Linked DNA regions of Homo sapiens. Changing the gene in region 1 together with any one later gene gives a genetic interaction. Each region holds a gene or a part of one and is shown on either strand. Other genes may lie near its edges.

Region 1 (2,994 bases):
ACAGGCAAGGTCCGGCTGTGTGCAAGTGGCTCAGGCCTGTAATCCCAGCACTGGAAGCTGAGGTGGGTGGGTTGCTTGGGGCCAGGAAAGACCAGCCTGGGAAACAGCAAGACCCAGTCTCTACCCCTTCCCCCACAACCCCAAGAAAAAGATGGGCAAAGTCCCTATTCTAATGAAGGTCACAGTGTCATGGGAGGAGAAGTGAAGGTGAGTCAGATGGTCATACGTAATGTGTAATTATGAGCATGTCCCAGAGAATGGGACGTTCAACCTTGGGTCTACTGTAGAAGCTAACCAGATCAAGGAGGCAGTGGGGCTAGTGTGGAGATAACAGGAACAGGGTGTGCAAAGGCCCTGTGGCAGGGACCACAAGGAAGCCAGTGTTGCCACAGAGGCCAGTGGGAGCAGTGGGGAGGAGTCTGGGTTTTGTGCCAAGAACATTGAAGAATCCATTACCAGTCAGGGTCTTATCCATCCACCCCAGAGGTCTGGCCAGTCCTCCCCCTGCTCACACCTTCCCTGGCTCCCCATCACCCTAGGAATAAAGTCATCAGTCTGCTATTCTGAGTTCTTCCTGATTTCCTTGCCCTGCTCCTCTTTCCTGATTCTCCCTGTCTGTGTCATTTCCCATGGCCCTCCCTCCTTGTGGCTACAACCACATTAAAATTGTTCAAAAAATAGGCCGGCACGGTGGCTCACACCTGTAATCTCAGCACTTTGGGAGGCCAAGGCAGGTGGATCACTTGAGGCCAGGAGTTCCAAACCAGCCTAGTCAACGTGGCAAAACCCCATCTCTACTGAAAATACAAAAAATTAGCTGGGGCCAGGTGCGGTGGCTCACACCTGTAATCCCAGTACTTTGGGAGGCCGAGGCGGATGGATCACGAGGTCGGGAGATCGAGACCAGCCTGACCAATATGGTGAAACCCCATCTCTACTAAAAATACAAATATTAGTTGGGTGTGGCAGCGGGCGCCTGTAGTCCCAGCTACTCTGGAGGCTGAGACAGGAGAATTGCTTGAACCTGGGAGGCGGAGGTTGCAGTGAGCCGAGATCGCGCCACTGCACTCCAGCGTGGGCGACAGAGCGAGACTCCATCTCAAAAAAAAAAATTAGCCGGGCATGGTGACAGGCACCCGTAATCTCAGCTACTAGGGAGGCTGAGGCAGGAGAATCGCTTGAATCTAGGAATCAGAGGTTGCAGTGAGCCAAGGTCACACCACTTGCACTCCACAGCCTGGGTGACAGAGTGAGACTGCCTCAAAAAAAAAAATCAATAGTTCAGAAAATACCGAGCACCCCCTGCGTGCCCGGTGGCAGGGCCCCTGCCTTTGTGAGGCTGGCATGGGGCAGGAGCTGTGACTTCTTTACCCTCCCCCTCGCTCCCCAAGTACTCTGTGCTTGGCCAGAGAGAGCCCGTCATCATGGTGCCTCCTGTCTGACTTCCCCGTGGCAGGACTGATCTGCCCGGCTCCCTGACACCTGCCTCGTGGACCTGACCCCCCTCCTCTTTGTGCCTCCAGAGCTATGCCAAGACCAAGACGAGAGCCGAGGTGCGGGGCGGTGGCCGGAAGCCTTGGCCGCAGAAAGGCACTGGGCGGGCCCGGCATGGCAGCATCCGCTCTCCGCTCTGGCGAGGAGGTAACAGGACAGGGTGGAGGGGGCGGGGAGGGGTGGGGGGGCCAGGGAAGGGCCTGGGTGTTTACTCACACACAGCTGCGCACATCTGGCATGGTATTATGTCAGCCCTGTTCCCTCCACCTCATGGAACCACCTGGGCTGGTGACATCGGAACTGAGGCCCTTGGACCTCACTACCCATATAAGGGGACAGAGATCTGGGAGCCATCCACTCCTCCCTCTCGCATGCCCTGTCTCTTCAGCCTGTGGCCACAGCCCCTCTTGACCCCACCTCCTGTCACCCTCTCCTGACCCACACTTCCCACAGCACCCAGAGAGCTCTTCTAAATCGTGGAACCTGAACTCCGGACCTCGGCCTTTGTGTGGAACCTGAACTCCTGACCTTGTCATTGTGGGCCCTGGTGGCTGCACACCTTTCCCCCTCATCCCCTCCTTTCCCTCTCTGACCAGGCAGAGATGACTCTCTCTTGTTTTTTCGGTTGTGTTTGTTTTTAACTTTTTATTTTCTTGAATGCTAACAAGATGACTCAGGGTGGTGCCAGCCACCCCATCACCTGTTTACCTGGCCAGCTCTCCTCACCTTTCAGGGTTCTGGGCCACACCTCCTCCAGGAAGCCCCCCTTGATCTCCTTTCCTTCCACATCCCCCGGAGCTACCCTGATTTCTTCTACAGCTGAGCCTCTTTTCTGCCCTGCCGGAATGTGAATGGCATGAGGGCAGGGACCATGTCTGTTGTCTTCTCTGCTGCATTTCCAAGGCCCAGGCGAGGGCAGACACCAACACATGGTGCTTGCAGGGGTCTCCCTGACTGTTGTTGCTCCCAGATCATACTGCTTGCTCCACCGGAGCATGTGCCTGATGCCTTCCTCTCCCGCTTGACCTGAAAGTTCGAACCTCCTGATAACTTCAGCATTAACAGCGTGCTTGAGTTAAGTTCACACTCTAGCCACTCTATGGAATCCACACCATAACTCATGGTGTCCTATGGGGCAGGAACTGTCCGATCTCAAGGTGGTTTGTTTTTTTTATTGTTTGCTTTTGAGACAAGATCTCGCTCTGTTGCCCAGGCTGTAGTGCAGTGGTGCAATCATAGCTCACTGCAGCCTTGAGCTCCTGGGCTCAAGTGATCCTCCATCCTCAGCCTCCCAAAATGCTGGTGTGAGCCACCTTCGCCAGCCCTGTCTCAGAGTGTGACAGCTGGGAAAACTGAAGCCCAGTGAAGCAAAGTCACTGGTCCCATGTTGTCCCTGATCCAGCCTCCCCTGAGGCCCCACCCTCTCTGCCTTGTTCCTGGCAGCGCCCCCTCTCTCGTCACCCCATGCCAGCCACTGCAGCAGATTGCTGACCTCCAGGC
Region 2 (3,823 bases), on another chromosome or scaffold:
CTCTTTTTTTTTTTTTCTTTTTTTTTGAGATGGAGTCTCACTCTGTCGCCCAGGCTGGAGTGCAGTGGCACGATCTCGGCTCACTGCAAGCTCTGCCTCCTGGGTTCACTCCATACTCCTGCCTCAGCCTCCCCAGGAACTGGGACTACAGGTGCCCACCACCATGCCCGGCTAATTTTTTTTTTTTTTTTTTTTTTTTAGTAGAGATGGGGTTTCACTGTGCTAGCCAGGATGGTCTCCATCTCCTGACCTCGTGATCCGCCTGCCTCAGCCTCTCAAAGTGCTGAGATTACAGGCGTGAGCCACCGCTTCCTCTCCCCTTTCTATCTCCTGATCTCCCCACCCTTCTCCAGTGCGATTAAGGCCTGATTGTATAATCAAGGGACAATAAATACTGGAGGTGCTGCTCTGTTAATTGGTAGTCAGTAGGTATTACCATGATCTTGGCAGACTGAGGAATAGCCTATTCACTCCATCTCAGACCGGCTTCAGAATGATCACTTTTGGGATTTCCTCACACCTTCATCCCAGTTACCATCCTTGAACTTGCTCTGGTTTGTCAGCCTCTCTTTGAGTGTGTGGTACAGAAAGGAAATCCTCTTTCCTTGAGGACTCTAACCATGCAGAGCAAGACTGCACTTTTCTTGTGGTAACCTAAAGCCCTGCCAGCTCCATTATAGACACATTGTGCTTTTGACACTATTACACTAGTGTGCCACCAAATAGGCCCTCAGCGTGGCTCAGCCCTCCCCATATCCTCAGGCAGCTCTCTTGTCCATTTCCCTTTATGTCTTCCTCATATTCATTCCTCTCCTCAACCTCCTACCTTGACTTTTGCTCCACTAAGTTGCAGCCATTAATTAAGGCATCGCAGCTTCCTCTTCTATCCTTTACCAACTGATCTTTAGCTGACCCTATCCTTTTGCCTTTTATTCTAATTCTGTGAAAGAAATGGTGTTTTAAGACTAAGTCCTCTATTTGTGCTTGAGATCCCATCGCCTCCTTTGCCTCAAGGACTGGGTTCCATCATTTGTTCATTTTCTTTTCTGTTTCATCAACCCTTCTCATTTAAATATTCTCTGTTTACTCTCATTTTGGAAAAAACAAAAACCCTCCAATTAACCTATGCTGCACCCTGTCACACCTCTTTTACCCAGCCACCTTTCTTGGAAGAGTTATCTAGAGTTGCTTCCTGTACTTCCCTAAGTCATTGCTAAAATCCTGCTCTCGTCCCACCACTCCCCAAAGTCATCAGACCTCGACATTGCCAGAATACCTGACCACTTTTCCTTCTTATCTTTCTTGGCACATCTGACATTGCTGACCTTGCCCCTCACTTAGGAAAACCCAGTCCTACTTTGTATTATCTCTCTGGCCATTTGTCCCTCAATTTCCATTGTGGGCTCCTTTCTTCCCCTTTGTCCCTCACATGCCAATTTTTGCCAAGACTCTGCCCTCTACTATATTCTTTTCAACCGCAGCTTCAAACTTGTTTATATGCTCATGACCCCTGTTCTGTATCATAGCCCGAATCTCTCCTGAGTGCTACCCTCAAACTCAAACAAGTCTAAAACTAAGCTCCTCATCTTCCCTTTGAACCTGCCGTTCTTTCTCCATTCTTGAATCTTGCCAATTCCTCTCCTTTCATTTAGTCATCCAAAACAGAACCCTGAGAGTCATCTCAGACTCTTCCTCTGGTACTAGCCCTCCTTTCCATCTTCCAAGTCCAGGTAGTCATCAGAGTTCTATAGATTCGACTTTGTTGCTATCTCCTGACTCACATCTCCTCCATTTCCTCCCTTGCTCCCTCATTTCAGGCTCCCCTCCCTTTTTGCCTGTCTTTCTGCACAGCCTCCCAGCTGGTTGCCCTGCCTCAGCAGTCTGGTCCTCACTGCTGTGGATTGCCTTTACTAAAATAGAGATCTATGCAGAAATACAGTTGCATAGCTTTTCACATAAGGCTCTTCATGATATGGCCTTTGCCTGCTTTTATGGCATGGTCCATCTACTCTGCCCCATGTGCCTCTCCTTGCTGCCATACAGAACTCTATCAGGGGAACCTGCCCCCAATATTTCAAGGTATGTTCTTTCTATTTTCCATAAGTGTCAGCTGGCTGAGAAATAAAGAGAAAGAGTACAAAGAGAGGAATTTTACAGCTGGGCCTCTGGGGGTGACATCACATATTGGTAGGACTGTGATGCCGACCCGAGCTGCAAAACCAGCAGGTTTTTATTAAGGACTTCAAAAGGGGAGGGGGTGTGCGAACAGGGAGTGGGTCACAAAGATCACATGCTTCTGAGGAAACAGGACAAGGACAAAATCAGAAACTCCTGATAAGGGTCTATGTTCAGCAGTGTATGTATTGTCTTGATAAACATCTTAAACAACAGAAAACAGGGTTCGAGAGCAGAGAACTGGTCTGACCTCAAATTTACCAGGGTGGGGTTTCCCAATCCTAGTAAGCTTGAGGGTACTGCAGGAGAACAGGGCATATTTCAGTCCTTATCTCAACTGCGTAAGACAGACACTCCCAGAGCGGCCCTTTATAGACCCCCCCCCCCCCACCAGGAATGCATTCCTTTCCCAGGGTCTTAATTATTAATATTTCTTGCTAGGAAAAGAATTTAGTGATATCTTCCCTACTTGCACGTCTGTTTATAGGCTCTCTGCAAGAACAAAAATATGGCTGTATTCTGCCTGACCCTGTAGGCAGTCAGACCTTATGGTTGTCTTCCCTTGTTCCCTGAAAATCACTGTTATTCTGTTCTTTTTCAAGGTGCACTGATTTCATATTGTTTAAACACACATGTTTTACAATCAATTTGTACAGTTAACACAATAGTGGTCCTGAGGTGACTTACATTCTCAGCTTACAAAGATAACAGGATTAAGAGATTAAAGACAGGCATAAGAAATTATAAAAGTATTAATTTTTGGAACTGATAAATGTCCATATTAAAATGAAATCTTCACAATTTATGTTCAGAGATTGAAGTAAAGACAGGCATAAGAAATTATAAAAGTATTATTTGGGAACTGATATATGTCCATATTAAAATGAAATCTTCGCAATTTATGTTTCTCTGCTGCAGCTCCAGCCGGTCCCTCCGTTCAGGGTCCGTGACTTCCCGCAACAGAACTCATTTGTATTTTCTCAAACATACCATCCTGGTTTGTTCTTTCATTGTTTCAGTCATCAACAAGTATTTATTGGGCACCTGTGAGGTGCGAAGACTGGTGTTAGAAAAACAATGACGAATAGGGGAAAATGAGAAGCTGGCACGGTTCCTTTCTCATAGAATTTTTATTTATTCATTCTTTGTTTCAGTCATCAACAAGTATTTATTGGGCACCTATGAGGTGCTAAGTCAGGTGCTAGAAAAACAATGATGAATGGGGGAAAATGAGAAGCTGACATGGTTCCTTTCTCATAGAATTTTTATTCTACTGAGGAGGATAACTGCATACGTGCTATGAAGGTAAGGTAGTTGGTGCTCTTTGAGGACTAGAATACAGGAGGATCGACCTAATCCAGAGCTGAGGGAGTCAGGGAAGGCTTCCCTCAGAAGTGATGATTGAGCTGTGATTTGAAGTGAGCAAAGAAATTCACTAGATGATGGGTATGTGGAGGTGGCCAAGAAAATTCTAAGCTTATGCAGAGGCCATGGGGTGTTTCTGCAGCTGATGATGTGGAGCTGAGTCAGCTTCCTCCCTTTGCCTGGAGAGTCCCCACTCCCTACCTCTAGCCTCCTCATCCAGGGGTCCTTGCATGGGGCTAGTGCTGTCATCTAACCCTCCCTTTCTCAACCATCAGGGGTGGGT

The links.
Region 2: of MRPL4 (region 1) and ATG7, changing one suppresses a phenotype caused by changing the other (phenotypic suppression), as found in Homo sapiens cells (one large-scale study listed by BioGRID).

Annotation. Positions count from the first base shown.
Region 1 is NC_000019.10:10,255,185-10,258,178, forward strand, and holds part of MRPL4 (large ribosomal subunit protein uL4m), read left to right. Parts: intron 1-1,523; coding exon 1,524-1,641; intron 1,642-2,994.
Region 2 is NC_000003.12:11,275,341-11,279,163, forward strand, and holds part of ATG7 (ubiquitin-like modifier-activating enzyme ATG7), read left to right. Parts: exon of another isoform or gene 1-3,480; intron 3,481-3,823. UniProt on the Homo sapiens protein: E1-like activating enzyme involved in the 2 ubiquitin-like systems required for cytoplasm to vacuole transport (Cvt) and autophagy.